Linked DNA regions of Homo sapiens. The protein of the gene in region 2 purifies or fractionates together with the protein of the main gene of each other region. This does not show direct contact. Each region holds a gene or a part of one and is shown on either strand. Other genes may lie near its edges.

What was found.
Region 1: the proteins of CTDSP2 (region 2) and MAP7D1 purify together in Homo sapiens (affinity purification with mass spectrometry; 3 studies listed by BioGRID and IntAct, with this or other methods). This does not show direct contact.

The regions. Positions count from the first base shown.
Region 1 is NC_000001.11:36,172,534-36,180,447, reverse strand, and holds part of MAP7D1 (MAP7 domain-containing protein 1), read right to left. Parts: coding exon 7,821-7,914; intron 7,085-7,820; coding exon 6,970-7,084; intron 5,551-6,969; coding exon 5,440-5,550; intron 4,250-5,439; coding exon 3,867-4,249; intron 3,752-3,866; coding exon 3,606-3,751; intron 2,576-3,605; coding exon 2,247-2,575; intron 2,030-2,246; coding exon 1,852-2,029; intron 1,764-1,851; coding exon 1,625-1,763; intron 1,528-1,624; coding exon 1,423-1,527; intron 1,187-1,422; coding exon 1,133-1,186; intron 937-1,132; coding exon of another isoform or gene 934-936; coding exon 891-933; intron 783-890; coding exon 692-782; intron 575-691; coding exon 381-574; intron 201-380; coding exon 190-200; 3' UTR 1-189. UniProt on the Homo sapiens protein: Microtubule-stabilizing protein involved in the control of cell motility and neurite outgrowth. Facilitate microtubule stabilization through the maintenance of acetylated stable microtubules.
Region 2 is NC_000012.12:57,836,384-57,844,297, reverse strand, and holds part of CTDSP2 (carboxy-terminal domain RNA polymerase II polypeptide A small phosphatase 2), read left to right. Parts: intron 1-536; exon of another isoform or gene 537-2,039; intron 2,040-7,083; exon of another isoform or gene 7,084-7,207; intron 7,208-7,914. UniProt on the Homo sapiens protein: Preferentially catalyzes the dephosphorylation of 'Ser-5' within the tandem 7 residue repeats in the C-terminal domain (CTD) of the largest RNA polymerase II subunit POLR2A.

The sequences.
Region 1 (7,914 bases), on a different chromosome or scaffold from region 2:
TGAGGGGCAGATCTGGCTCCGGCCAAAGAGACATCAGTCTATAAGGTGCAGATTAAAAACAACAGAGAGGACCCACCCCCAGGGGCCCAGGCCACTTCCATCTTTGTTCTGTCTTTTTCTCCTCCAGACATCCTGGTAGGTGATGCAGAGGAGCCCTCACAACTGTGCCCGGATCCAAGGCAAACCCTCTTAAAGGACTTCTGGGGAAAAACAGGAAGGGAAACAGTCAGGGCAAACAGCACTCAAGCCCAGATAGCTGGGGGTCTTCAGGGTGGAGCAGGAGAGGGTGCCTGGCAGAGCCAGAAGAGAAGGCAGGGCTGAGGAGTACAGGGAAGGCTGCTGGGAGGAATGGAGCTGGGTCCAGGAATCAGGAGATCTACCTGTGACCTGCGGGGACTGCACCACAGCTTTCTTGAGGAAGGCTTCTGCCTCTGCAAAGGGCAGGAGTGTCTCTGGTGTTCGGCTCAGACTCTTGTCCCCAGAGGGTCCGTTGGTGGAGAAGCCATTCTCCTGGTGTGCTGGGAGAGGCTGCAGGCCATTCACCAGGGACGCTGGCAACTCCTTGCTTGGGAGACTGTGGATGCAGAGGCCAAGGCTCAGCACCTCACCTCCCAGGAAAGCCCAGGCCACCCCGCAGCTCCAGCTGCAGTCTGCCTCCCTGCTCAGGGACCCTGGGATTGGAAGCTGGTACCTCCACTGAGGCTCCTGTGGGATGGGCTCCTCTTTCTGCACAGCCTCCTTCTGCAGCCCTGGGGACCGAGCCTCCACAGCTTTCACAGGCTCTGTCACAGGGAAAGAGGGGCCATCAGCCAGGGGCTGGCAAGAGAGGTGAGGATGGAGGAGGAGGAGGATGGCAAAGGGAAGGGAGGCGAGAGGAATGGGGGCTTTACCTGGGCTGGAACCGTTGGCGTTGGCCTCCTTGCTGTCCTGCTTCTGCTTTGAAGAGGAAGAGCAGTCAGGCTCAAGGGACAGCCGGCCCCAGCCACTTCGGACTGAGTTCGGCCCTCCCCTTGCCCGGGCCGCAGCGGCCTCCCTGACAGCCTCGCTCTCCGTGGCCATGGATGCCTTTCCGCAGCCTCCTTTTCACACCCTGCCCCCCACGCCCAGCACTGCCCTTCGGGGGAATTCTGACCTTGGTTTCAGAAACTTCTGACTTCCGAGTCCTCTTCATGATCTCCTCCAGACGCTGTTTGGAGGCCGCAGATCAGTTAGGCTCGAGCCCCGCCCCTAATCCTAAACCTCCCACCAGCCAGACCCGGCCTCGGAGTCTTAGGGCCTCCCAGCTCATAGCAGCCCTCTCCAGGACAGGAACTGGAATTTGCCCCAGCGCTTTCCCGTCCTGTCCGCTCTAAGCCCAGGCCCCGCCCACCTGGCCCGCCCTGCCCAGGCCCCGCCCACAAATCCCCGCCCAGGTCCGCACACCTTTCTGCGCTCTTGCCGCTCTTGCTCCTGCTGCTGGAAGTGCTTTTCCCGCTCCAGACGCTGCCGCTCCGCCTCTTCCCGCGACCGAGCTTCGGCCTCCTCTTTCTGCCAAAGACCCCCATGAGCGTGGGGCACTTGACTCCAGCCTTCCCTCCCGGCCCGCGGCGCCCGCGCCCAGCCGCTTCCCGCCCGCCGGGGGCACCTGCTTCTGCAGCCGCTCCTGCTCCTCCTGCTCGGCCTGCGCCTTCTCTCGTGCCTCCTGCTCCTCCCGCCTCCGGGCCTCCGCCTCCCGCTCCGCCCGGGCCTCGGCCTCCCGTGCCAGCTGCTCCTCTCGCATTCGCCTGGGGGACGGAGCAAACGGCTCAGGCTCGGCCTCTGCTTCTTCTCCAGCGCCCACGAGGGCCCCCTCAGTCCCCGAGGCGCACTCACTTGTCCCTTTCTGCCTGCAGCCTCCGCTCCTGCTCCTCGCGCTCCCGCTGCTCCCGGGCCTGGCGCCGCTTCTCAGCCAAGAGCCGAGTGGCTTCTTCTCGGTCTGTGGTGCCGGCCATTGGTTTGCTAGGGGTCACCGGGGGAGCAGGGGCTGGGGGTGAGGTCAAGACAGCAGCGTCTGGAGGGGGATCCGGGATCAGGCGTCAGCACACCCACGCAGACACCGCCGTCATCTCCCAGCGGCCTGTGTTCTGGGCCTGGGACTGCTGAGGGCAGGAGTCTCCTCTTTCCATGTCCCACTCCCAGTCCTCAGGCATCTCTGGCGGCCCACACCCCCACACAGGAGAAGCTGGCTTCTCTCGCTCGGCCCACCCCTCCCCTCTCTTCATTCCTACCTGTAGGGGTCTCCGCGGGGGGCTGCTCCTTCTGGGGCGGGGCTGGGGTGGGCGAGGGCGCCGGCGAAGGTGCCGGTGAGGCTGGGGCTGCTGACTCCTTCTCGTTACTGGCCCTGCGCTTGCTCTGGCTCTTGTCCTCGGGCCCTGCGGCGCTGGGGCTCTCCTTTGCCTCCTCCTTCCTCCGAACCCGCCCCTTGGGGGATGCAGTGGTGCCTCGGGGGGACGGTGGCTTTGGAGGCAGAGTGTGGCCTGGCCCTGGGCTGGGGCAGGGGGAGGCAGGCCTGTGCCAGGATGTGGAGGGAGAGGATGGCCTGGCCTTGGATTTGGGGCTAAGAGAAAAGGGAAAAGGGAAGGGTTAGGAGACACACACACCCACACGCTGAGAACTTGTTCCTTCCTCTGGGAGGTGCCCCCTCCCCCAGGCTACATCAGCGCCGCCCCCCGCCCCCTTGCTCTCACAGAAACACACCATTCCCTTTTAGAGCATACACCCCAGTTTGTAATGACATGTTTCTGTGGGATTCTTTGATTATTGTATGTCCCCCGCCAATAGCCTGTAAGCTTAATAAGAGAAAAAACCATGCTTGGGTTAGCTCAGCAACGTGTCCTCAGCACCCTGAGTGCTACCTGACAGGTCCATTCATTCAGCAGGTTTTGTTGTTGTTGTTGTTGTTGTTTTTAAGACAGAATCTGGCTGACCCCCAGGCTGGAGTGCAGTGGCATCATCATACATAGCTCACTACAGCCTCGACCTCCTGGGCTCAAGCAATCCTCCCCTTGGCCTCCCAAAGTGCTGGGATTACGGGCGTGAGGCACTACCCTGGCCCTTCAGTAGGTATTCACTGAGTGGTTACCAGGTGCCAGGCACTATTTTAGGTGTTGGGGTACTTCAGTAACCAAAACACTTAAAAAAACAAAAACAAAAACGAACAAAAAGAAAAATGGAGGCTGGGCGGGGTGGCTTACACTCACACATGTAATCCCAGCACTTTGGGAGGCCAAGGCGGGTGGATCACCTAAGCTCAAGAGTTCAAGATCAGCCTGGACAACGTAGCGAAACCCCCACTCTACCAAAAATACAAAAAATTAGCCGAGCGTGGTGGCGCGCCTGTAGCCCCAGCCACTTGGAAGGCTGAGGTGGGAGGATAGCCTGAGCCTGGGAGGTCAAGGCTGCAGTGAGCCGAGATTGTGCCACTGCACTCCAGCCTGGGTGACAGAGGGAGATCCTGTCTCAAACAAAACAGAGAGAATCTGCCCTCAGGGAAGTTGCATTCTAGAGGTGGTTGCCCAACAAATATTTGTGGGTGATGAATAAATGACCCGGTGAGGGGCAGGGTCCCTCGCACCGCCCGCGCCCACCTGAGCTCAGAGGCGGTGCTGGCAGAGAGGCGGGCACGTGGGGAGGCGGGCAGCGACTGGCGCTTCTTGAGGCTGCGCTCCCGGGCTAGGGCACTCTTCTCCTTCTCGTTTTCCCGCTCCTTGTCCTTCTTCTCCTTTTTCTGCACCTGGCAGGGAAGGAGGAACGGAAGAGGAGAGTAGAGGTCAGCAGCGCCCGCGTACCCCAGTTCCAGGCTGCCTGTCCCCACCTGCGCGGCCACTCGAGCCAGTAGAGCCACTCACCGGCGAGGCCTCCGGCCGGCGGCGCACCGGAGCGGGGCTGCCCCCGGCGTTGGGCTTGCGGCGCTCCCCGCGCTCACCGGCGGGGGCGCAGCGGTGCACGCTTCGGGTGACGCTGCACGGCGTCAGGGGGCTGGCGGAGGCCGAGCGCGGGCACACCGGCACGGCTGCAGAGGGATGAGTGCGGTCGGGTTGCGGCCCGCGCGCCAGGCTGGCCCCTGCCCGGCCCCACGTGGGGCCTCTCCCAGGGTCGCAGCCCCTACCCTGGTCCCGGCCGTTGCGGGGCAGTGTGACCGCGCTGCGACTCCGAGCAAGGAAGGAGAGAGTGGGCGTCATCAGACGATCCACGATGCTGCTCTCCCATGCGCTCAGCTGCAGGCTGCGATCTGGGGGTAGAAGGCCAGGCGAAGCCGGTCACCGTGGGGGCCGTAGGAGGCAGGAAGAGGCAAGGGAGCAGACCAGGCACCATCCCCATGCCAAGGCCAAGGCTTCTCACCCGGGAGTCCTCTCCCCACAATCACACCGGGGCCACACTTGTCCTCCCTATGATCTGGACTTCCACTACAGACCCAGGCAACCAGACACTTCCCAGGGCAACATCCTGCATCGGATGAGGGTCCCCGCCTACAACGCTCCCCAGGTGAAGGGGCCCTGAACGGCGCATATAGGAAGGAGCCATCCAGGATTGGAAGAAAACCCAATTGCCCTCTGCCATGTCCCAGTGTAAGGTCTTGCCCCTCCTGCTGTCAGAGGGCTGACCCAGCCGAGGCTGTCCCATGGATTCAGGACAGTGAGGGTCCTTGTGCTCCTCTGACCCAGCTTTTAGCAGTCCTGTGCCAGGGAGAGGCTGCTAGGGTGCCTGCCTGCCCTAGGCCACCCTGCTCTGTCCCCTCAGCTGCTGGGCTATTTTTAAGCCTCAGTCAGGTGGGGTTGGTACAGCAGCTGATTTGGTTGCTAGGCAACAAAGCAGCCAAACAAATGCAAGAGAAACTTATAAATAACTCCCACCATGGCTCCTTCACATATGAGCACCAGGGCATGGTGGGAATGCAGGGGCTATGCCACCTTGGTTGGCTCAACTCTGGGACCAGCCAAGGCCATGACTGGGGCTCTGAAGACAGAGAGGGCAGGATTGCATGGGCCCTCTAGGGTGGAGCCAGAATGAGGGACCCCTCCACCCCACAGCACCCAGGCCAGTCTGACACATGGGGACAATGCCACCTGGCTAAGGTTGGCCCAGACCAGCTGGCTGTGGTTGCAGAAAAGGCTGCCTGCCTGTCCCCACCCCCAGCCACCACCTCCAACTTGCTCTTGAGGCTCCTGCCAGGCTTCCTGCCCTCTGCGGCATTGTGCTTTGTCTCTGTTCTCCTCTCCTACAGGGCAACCTCTGTCCTCAGGGTCCAGACCCATATGCCGGCTCCCCCGAGGGGCACAGAGCCCTGGGTAAGGTAGAGTGGGGATGGGGACCTGGAGTATGTGAGGGCTCCAGGGACCTGGTGTTCTTGCTGAGCTCTGGAGGAGGCTTGGTGGGAGCTACAAGGGGCTCTGGAGGGGGAAGGGCTGGGCCTTCTCTTACTTCTACTGGGGGAGTTCCAGAGCGTGGCAGAGGACTTTGAGAGCCGCTTGTTGATTATAGAGTCCACGTGTTTGGGCAGGTTAACTGCCGACACGGAGCACCTGCTCCCACCTGGAGGGGGAAAAGACACGGCATTAGGGCCGGGCCCGGCAGGAGCCAGTGGGGGGCACCGAGGCCTTCCATGCAGGATGCTCCGAGGGCGGGGTGGGAGAGGGAGGAGTGGGCAGGCTAGGATGAGGAGCAGGAGGCAGCCTTGGCCCTGGGAGAGGGAGGGTGGGGGGGTAGGTGACCAGAGACAACCTGGGTTGGGGGAGCCGACGGAGAAGGAACAAAGGGAGGAGATGAGTAAAACTAGAGAAACTACAGCTTTCCTGGCCAGACCAAGGAAGCCATTCCTTACGGCTGAGTACTGCAACCCCTCCCCATAACCACCCAGCATTAGCACTTGCTGACACTGCCCAGCCAAGACGTTTGGATACAACACCCCCGTACTGGGATAAATGCAAAAACCCTCCTAAACAGGACCTACACAGTCACAGTCACTTGCACAAATCCACGTGTTCATCCAGAATCACAAAAAGACATGCAGACACAGGCATATAGAGTGGCAGATACTTCGGCATGCACACATGTGTGCAGACATGCACAGGGACAGAGACACAAACACTAACAGATAGTGTGTCAGACCCAGATGCACACAAGCCACAAACAGATCGAAGCAACCTCATCATGACATTTGTAGCAGCTCACATTTGTTGATGCTTACCATGTGCCAGGTACTGTGTGGGGCACCACACACATGTGACCTCATTTGATCCTTCAAACATCTATCTACCACCTCAGGGGCAAGTAGTATCACTATCCCCAGTTTATAGATGAAGAAAGTGAGACTTCGAGAAGTTAAAGGTTACGCTGCAAGTGCCAGAGCTGGAACCCAAGTCTGTCTGACTTAGGAGCCCTCACTGAGGTACACAAGGTCACAAACACGCCAAGGCAAACACATATTAAGACACACAATGCACGGGTCCAGGAGCACATAAACAGAAGATACACAGCTAGAAATACTGAAACTTGCCATTGCATAAAGACATCCAAGCACAGTGGTACATACATGCCAGCAAAGAATCAGACCAAAATCCATGGTGGCCCTACGCGGAGAAAACTCAGAGACAAAAATCTACCTTCCGAGACAAGGAGTGACAGTTTCTTTAAGATCCAGTGTCTGTAGGTCATTAAAGTCTTTTATGTATCAACAACTAATAATAATTGACAGGCGCAAAGAAGGCTAATCCTAAAATGACAGAGGTTTGAAGAGCAAACCAAATGGAGAGAATCCATCTCTGATTTGATAGTGGAAGTCCTTGGGAAGGGACAGTTTGGCTTACAGACCATTCTAGAAGACACAAGTCACATAAAGCAAGGCACACCTGCTGCAGGGAGCCACCAGCTTTTTGTAGGGAAGTTGTTCCCTTCCCTTACTTGCCATCCCAGCCTTGCCCACCCACTCCCCAGCCCCTCCAGCCTACTCACTGGTCTTATGTCCTGGAGAGCTGTGGTGCAGGGCCCCTGCCCAGGACCAGCGCTGCTGCCGGATTTCGGCCCACGTCTTCTTCACTGACCGTTGGATGGCTGCTTCATAGCGCTCCTGGGGGAAGGTGGGGAGAAGAGAGAGATGTGGACTCAGAACATTCATCGAATTTGGGATAGAGGCCCTTCTTCCTCCTGTGACAATGCCTCCCCCACTCCCTTCCCTTGGAGTCTTTTCCTGACTCATTGCAGGTAACCAAGGTTACCAAATCCTTGCTATGATTAAGGACCAAGATCCCTTTCAACTTGTTCTTGGGGAGCTTTTCACTGTTCCTGAGTCATTTCCTGAGTGCATGAGTTGATTCTCTGAGGATTGGGTGGACTCCCCCTACCTGGGGCTCCCAGGCAAGGCCACATCTCAGGCACTGAGGGTCCTGACCTTGGGGCTATGTGTTCCCTCTAGCCTGAGGCCCTCCCAGGTAGGGCCAGGTGGCCATTTCCTTCATTTCCTCACCAGCACTCAAGCTAGGGCTTTACCCATGTCACAGAGCTAGGCACGCTCACACAGATGCATACCTGCATACATACAGACACATGGGGTACATGTACGAACACAGGTACTGACAGTAAACAGTTACAGGGGCCTACAGTGGCACATTCAGAAGCAAATGTGCCTGCAGTTGTACAGGTGCCCAGATATTCTAACACAGGGACACAACTGTAGATGTGAACACAAATAGGACCACATAGACACAGATAAGGCAGAGCCGTGAACATGGATGTGTGTACACACTGCACCAGTATGCAGACGGTGAGCACACGTGTACATGGATTCACGGAGACCCATCCCGCACCTTGTTTTTCTCGAGCTTCTGCCGCTGCCGTTCCTCCAGGGCTGCACGGCGTTGCTCGGCTTTAAGACGTTGCTCCTCCAGCCGGCGCCGGCGC
Region 2 (7,914 bases):
GTGTTGGATTTTCTTGGAGTTAATGTTTCTCCTTTTTTGTGTGTGTGGTTTAAGCCAGCAGCCACTGGGTCTCTCCCTCCCCATGTAATTTTTTATTTTAATTGAGATGGAGTCTTACTCTGTTGCCCAGGCTAGAGTGCAGTGGCGCAATCTCAGCTCACTGCAACCTCCGCCTCCTAAATTCAAGCAATTCTCCTGCCTCAGCCTCCCAAGTAGCTGGGATTACAGGCGCGCGCCATCACGCTTGGCTAATTTTTTTGTATTTTTTAGTAGAGACAGGGGTTTCGCCAGTTGCCCAGGCTGGTCTCGACTCCTGAGGTGATCAGCCCCCTTCGGCCTCCCAAAGTGCTGGGATTACAGGCGTGAGCCACCGCGCCCGGCCCCTCCCCATGTAATTTGATTGCATTCCAGAGAAGACAGACTTTCTTCCTGGGCTGCTTAGGCACCCAGCAACCACTAAACCAACTTTCTGAGTCCCACATCATTTACAAACAAAACCTACGTCTTCAAAACAAAACAAAAAACAAAAGCTGGGGGACTGGGGAAGCAGATGTTTTAATTGGCTCCTTTTGGAGTTCCTTCTTCTCCCCACTCCGTCCTCTCCACAACATCCCATCTCCATGCCTTGCCTGCCTTTGGAAAAAGGGGAAGAAGGAGTGTGAGGTACTTATTATTAATAAGTAAATTTCTGGAAAGAAACAAATTGCTCCTAGCTTGGGTGGCTATTTAGTGAAGTTACTTGCCATTGCGGGTTTTTTTTTTCTTTTTTTAGCATTCTGTTCTCTGAGGTTTAAGGCTGTCTGGGTGCGTTGATGATTCAAAAGTAATTACAGTAGGGGAAGTAGAACAAAGTTGCTGAAAGCATTGATGATAAAAGCACCAAAATTGGATCATCTTCCCAGACAGATGGGTGAAATGGCTTTCTGGTACAGCAAGGACAGGATTGTGTGTAACATCAAAAAGAAAAAAGAAATGTTAATATCAGCTTGGCAAGAATGGCTGTTGATTGCAGCTCTATATGAGATTGTCACCCCATTGCTAAGAGGTTGTGACCTTGGCTTTGGGATTAGATGGGGGAAAGCCAAGGAAACAAGACCCACGCTGTAACCTCCCAACGTGAAATGAGACCTGGTGGAGGCAGCCTCTTCCGGAGCTCAGTGACCCACACGCCTTTTGGAGGAATCAGAGATTTTTTTGTTGTCCATGAATCCTGATGCCCCTTCCTCTCGATGATGCCCTGGATTACCTTCTCACATGCCGAACTGGACAGGTTCTGATAGCTAATTGCAAGGATTCTTCTGAGAGACTGACCATCTCTGAAAATTACGATGTGGCAAGTTTTCAGGATGGCTAGCTCTTTTGTTATCCGCATAAGGGAGAAATTCTGCCTTATTCCCTCAAAAAGTTGTTCAGACACCGTTCACTGTAGATGTAGGCAAGCCTTTAACTTGAAAAGCTTAGACATGAATCTTGCTGGAGCTTCCTTCCATAGCTTGCTATGCAGGGGGCGGGAAGCCTGCATGTTTATAGCTGGCTCCTCCTCCTGCCCTGCTGGTGCCTCTCACCTTCCTTTGCCTACCCTGGGTCTTGGCCTCTTTGTGCTCTCACAGTGACTGCTGAGGCTCCCTCCTGCATCTCCTTTGGAGTTTTTCCCCCATCTTTGGGTAAGGGTTGCAGCCTGCGTGGTGACTTAAGCTTGTGTTTGCTCCTGTCCCCAAAATTGCAGAGGAGCGCTGATAAATCAGCAACAAAGTTTGTAAATGCCTAACATCTGGGGCTGGGGGTTTGCAGTTGACTTGCAGAGCTTTCCACTGAGCAGCACTGGAATTGCTGTGAAAAATCCCTCGGAGGATGGCAGAGGTGGGGGTGTTCCTTTGTCCTCTCTTCTCAACCGTAGAGGTCTTAAAGAAACTGGGTAGCAGAGAGGTGTCATTTCATCCTTTCCATGGGACCTTCCAAATCCCTTATCATGGATTTTGTTAAAATGGTAAATACTAAAGAAGTCACATTTCTAGCCAACGTGAATTGATGCTCCCAACCTGTGAAGAATTAAAGTGTTTGTAAATAAGCATGGAAAAGAAAGACAATATGTAAATATATATGGGATTGTGTGTATGTGTGTACATATCAATACATAGCTTCCCTTCCAATTCCTCCTACAATTTTTTTTTTCTGCTAGCTTTTGGGTAATTTGGGGTATTGTCTTTTATTCCCATCATGGTAAGTTTGGTTCTTAGATTGGACAGAGTGGGGACCAGGGTCAGGGATGGTGGTTAAAGTTTACATTGTTACTTCAAAGCATTGTTTCTGAAGCAAAATTGCTTCAGGCCTGGGTTCAAATACCTTCTTTTCCTATTTGCAATGAGACTTGATAAATCACTTTAGTATTCTGAGTAACTTATCTATAAAGTAGTAATAATGATATCTACCCTTCTATTATACTTGGTACTTAGTAGGTGCTTGATAAATATTAATGTCCTCCCTCTTTACATAGTTAGACTACTCTGTTCGCCCTCCTCCATTCCCCCAAGGACACAGTGTAAACAGCACGTAGTCTTGTGGGTTTTATTTTTCAAGACAGGTGGCCGGGGGTCAGAGGGGACACTGATTGTGGGGGCTTGGGCCTTCTGGAAGGATCAACCTCTTAGGCTTACAAACAGCCTTGCTGCACAGACCCCTTCTTTGTGTCATGTGACTTGGGATGTGATTTGTTATCTGCCTGGGCTGTGGGACTTTGGCCATTCTGTCTGGTGCCTGGGCATCTGGGGGTGGGAGAAGGCCAGGCATGTGCCCCCTGTGAGTCTCTAAAGTCTAAACTTCCTTAGAGGTTCTCAAATATGGATATAACGAATATTCAGGACAACTGTATGCTACATTCTCTCACTGTCTGCTTTGAGAGTTAATGAATTCAGAGAGATTGAGGTTTCTTTTAGGTAATTTTAATAAGAGGGGGAAAAAGAAAATGGGGTTTGAAGAGAAATAGATGTTCTTAAGCTATTTGTTTGCTCCTGTGGTTTTGGGGTACAACATTGAGAAAGTACAAAAGCAGCATTGATCTGCTTTTCATCTTGTCTTAGTCTGGCCAGCTCTGGGAAGCATGGAATTAACTCGCTTGTCTTTGGGACGTGGGATTGGGTGTGGCCCTGACATATTTCCCTCACTTTTCTGAAATGGAGTAGTAGTTCTGAACTGGGATGCAGATGAGCACATTAACACGCAAATCTTACAAAGAAAGTACTAGAAATTAAAGTGGATAAGTTGACGACTTAAAACTGGAAGCATCTCTGGACCAGAGACCAAATAGAATGGAGTTTCTTTGTCTGGCAAAATGCCCAGCCCTTCAGGTCTGAGTATGCCTGCACCAGGATCTGTTATCACAGGGTACTCCAGTGAGCGCCACAGCCTCCCTCTAGGCAAAAGTGTGTATGCCCTGTTTTATGTTAGCTATTCTAGGAGTTAGCCTTGAACCTGATCTCTGAGTGGATCTGACATTTCCATTTCCCTCCTAGGTGCTCTAGTCCTTCCCCCACCCCCATCCCCCCAAATCAGACTTTGCTCTTACTCTCTTTTTATTCTATACCTTCTTTTATTTCTTGCCACAGCTTTTTCCATCCTCTTGAATTTGCACTTTCCCATCTGCATTGTTCCCAGGGAACAAATATGGCCCCAATCCCAGTGAGAGCCAAGCAGACTCATGGAAAGGCTCAAATTGCCTGCGGAAGGCTTCCTGGATAGTAGATCCCAGCTTTTCTGTTCCCGCAGCAGAATAGAGCTAGGACCCCTCTTTCACAGGAACAGGGGCCTGCAGGTAGAGACAGCAGACCCAGGTTTTCTGACTCACGTCACATAGAACTACCCCTAGAGAAGAAAACTGGATCCTAGGCATGAGTCCTCTAAGGCTTGCAGAAACACTGAGCCAGTCAGGTACGGTGGGGAGAGGGGCCAAGGGGACTTTGGCTGAATTGCCTTCTAGCCCTGGGTTAGTCAGAGACCCTGGCAACCGGTAGATACTGGCTCTCAGCCAGGGACACACATCAGAGTCTCCTGTGACACTTGCTAAAAATACAGACCCCCCACCTGGGATCTGCTGAATCAGCGCATGGGCAGGTGGGTCAGGCATGCATGTGTTCCAAATGCTCCTTGTGGCTCTGACAGGTGCCCCTGGAGAAGAGCCAGGTAGGCACAGCAGTGGCCCCAACTGCCTGTTTTGCCCCGAGCAGGAAAATTCCTCTTGGTGGTCCCGTTTTACTGTATGTTAAAGATCTGTGGCTCTTCAAGGGGAGTCCTAAAGTTTTCAGAGTAAATGGACAGAGTAATGATCCATCCTTGTTTACCCAGTAATGGTTACAGCCAATATTTATAGAGTACTTGCCATAGGCAAGGTACTATTCCTAGCATTTTATATCTCGTATCTCACTTAGTTCTCCTGACAACTTTTCCTTTCCAATAAGAGGAATTAACCTCACTTTACAGATAAGGAAAACTTTCACAGGGAGAGGGAAGGACTTTGCCCAAGGGTACATGGCTAGTGTCAGCCAGACATTTGCATTGTCTGGCATTTCACTTTTTTTTTTGAGATGGAGTCTTGCTCTGTCGCCCAGGCTGGAGTGCAGTGGCGCGATCTCGATCTCAGCTCACTGCAAGCTCCACCTCCTGGGTCTATGCCATTCTCCTGGCTCAGCCTCCTGAGTAGCTGGGACTACAGGCGCCCGCCACCACGCCCGGCTAATTTTTTGTATTTTTAGTAGAGACGCGGTTTCACTGTGTTAGCCAGGATGGTCTTGATCTCCTGACCTCATGATCCGCCCGCCTTGGCCTCCCAAAGTGCTGGGATTACAGGCTTGAGCCACCGTGCCCGGCCTAACATTTCACCTTTTAGAGTGCTTTTGAGTTCATGATTCAGGTGCATGCTTCAGGTGAAGCCACCTTTTAAGGGACCATGCAGGGGAAACCTTTCCAGATTGGCTTATGAGGAAACTGAACCCCAGAGAATTGTGCCCTAGCAAGGCCACGGAACTGTTGAAAAGCTGAACTGGAGCAAGAGCTGGGTTTCCTGACTTCTAGATCAGTACTTTCTCAAGTGGACTCACCTATACGGCTTGGCTGGTCATAGGTGAAGCTGAGGGGTGTGGGGGGAGCAGCAGAATGTCCCTGGAGATGGGTGCCTCCCTGGCAGACTCCTTCCATTCCTTCTGCAGAGGCCAGCCATATGAAGGAGGAACTGGTTGGCCAGCCTCAATGAGTGTGTATGTGTGTGTGCGACTGATTCGTTTTTGTGGAGTCCCGGAAAACATCATTTCCGGTTTGGCCCTGTTACTACCTCTGAAATGAGTTAGAAGAAATCTCTATGGTCCCTTTAATGTGAACATTTTGAGATGGAGACTGAGGTAAGAGTATGAAAGTACTTTGCACTTAATGAGTAGCAGTTGACACTTACAAAGCTTTTGTTAGGACCAGGACACTCCCTGAGCTCCCTGCAATTCTGACACTGAGAAATAGGTAGTCTTCCCATTTTGCAGATGAAGAAACTGAGGCCCATGGCTGCATACCTTACACATGGCAGAGCCTAGATTCGAACTCAAGTCTGGGTGCCTTGTGTCACCACTGTATTTTTCCCTGGTCAGAACAGATACCCTTGCTTTGTCCTGTGTCCTCACTGCTTTCTCCAGCTCACGTTTGTATCAACCTAAAGCAGGCCTACATACCTGGAAGGGAAAGAAGCAGTGGATTCTTCCTAGGCTTCAACTATATCTAAGCATTCCAGGAGTCAAGGGCACAGCACTAAGGCAGGAACTTGAAACACTCACTGAGAGGTTGTCTGTGTGTAGCCCCTCCCACAGGGGCTTGTTATACACCTCCTTAGGGGGAAGGAGGGGTAACTCCAGGTAGGCAAGTGTGGTTTCCAATCCCTCACAATGATACCTTTGCTCTGGCTGGTGCTACATAGGGCAGGGTCTCCTGCTGAGGCAGGGGCAGGATCCAGTCCTTTGAGTTTTCTTGGATGGCATCTCAGGCTTGTCCCTGCTGCCCTGTGGGCTATTAGATCACTTCCTGACATCCCTCAAGAGTCCTCTGGAGTGGGGCTTGCAGGGCTGAGCCTGCAGCTGACTTGTCTATGAGGAAACGCCTCCTCTGTCTCTGGTCCAGGATCTGCTACTTATGGAGGCCCACCCCAACCCAGCACGTTTTTAAAGTACGTTGGAGCTGCCCAGGAGGGTGTTTTGGCAATACCTCCTTTAGAGGCTGATTCTGAAATCAGCGTGCTTTAGAACTGCCAGAAATCCCCTGCTCCCAAAACTGAGTCCTCTTACCTCTCTAGCTGAGGTCAGAGAACAGATTGCTGAAGGGGCAGAGACAAGAAAGTGTGTGACCTGTGACCCTCGCCCCACAGGTGGCATTAAGGACTCAGGTCTGAAAGAAGAGACAGCCATATAGGGAGCTCTCCTGCCCAGGGAAAGGGAACTAATGGAGACACTGGCTTAGGTAGAGCTGCCCCAGTTGCTGGTGCAGAGAGGGCACCAGCATACAACATGCTGGTATGGGCCAAACAGCATGGCTAAAACTGCTTTTTAATTTTTTAAATTTTATTTATTTATTTATTTATTTTGAGACAGAGTTTTGCTCTGTCCCCCAGGCTGGAGTGCAATGGTGTGATCTCGGCTCACTGCAACCTCCACCTCTTGGATTCAAGTGATTCTCGTGCCTCAGCCTCCGGAGTAGCTGGGATTACAGGAGCTCACTACCATACCCTGCTAATTTTTGCATTTTTAGTAAAGATGGGGTTTCACCATATTGGTCATGCTGGTCTCGAACTTCTGACCTTAAGTGATCCCCACTGCCTTTGCCCCCCAAAGTGTTAAAACTGCTTTTTTCAAAAAATGCCCATGCAGTTAGATACACAGCTACTTTTTGGAACTTCGGGAGCCGGTGCTAAGCTGGGTCCGGCCCTGCCTTGCTTGTTAGCTGTAGAGAACAGTGTCAGTGGCCAGGCATGAAAGCAGTACACCCTCCCCATTGTTTGCAGTCTTTTGTGTGTGGGGGCTGTCTAGGCATCTCACCCTCTTTTGTTCCCTGCCGACTCACCTGCTGGTCCCAGGAGCTCTTCCGTCCACCTGGCACTTTAGGGCATGTCCATAGCCAAGGAACAGATGCCCCTTGCAGAGGACCTGGGAGGACTTCTCTCCATGGGGGAGTCCCAGTCAAATGTGTCTTGGCTGCAGGGTTCAGGCAGCCGTCCAAGAAGGGCCGGAAATGCTCCAAATACTCTCCTTCCTCCAATAGCTGAGAGGAAGGAGGCCCCTCAGAGGGGCCATTTTATAGTGATAGCCAGGCTAAGGCTAAGTCCTTTGCTGTGGGGGATGGGAGGTGGTGGGGAAGGAAGTACTTCTGGGGATGAACCAAAAAAGAAAGCAACTTTCTACCTGAATGGGCTTGTTAAAATCTGATTGTCTCAGAGGTTACCTTCTGCTGAATCGCAGGCAGATGTGTGAGGAGTTCCTTTGCTGGGACACAAAGCTGTGTTGTTGACAAAAGTGGTATCTGGACCTGACTTTCAGGAGAAGATTAAAAACAGTGTTGCCCTGGTCACTCTGGTCTTCGTTTGTGTGTATGTGTGCACGTGTTCACGTGTTTGTACATGTACACTTTTTTTTTTTAAAGACAAAATCTCACTCTGTCACCCAGGCTGGAGTGCAGTGGTGCAATCACGGCTTACCGCAGCCTCAAACTCCTGGGCTCCGGTGATTCTCCCACTTCAGCCTGCCAAGCTGGGACTGCAGGTGCACCTGGCTAATTTTTTTTTGGTAGAACAGGATTTTGCCATGTTGCTCAGGCTGGTCTTGAACTCCTGAGCTGCAGTGATCCAACCGGCCCAGCTTCCCAAAGTGCTGGGATTACAGGCTTGAGCCACCTACC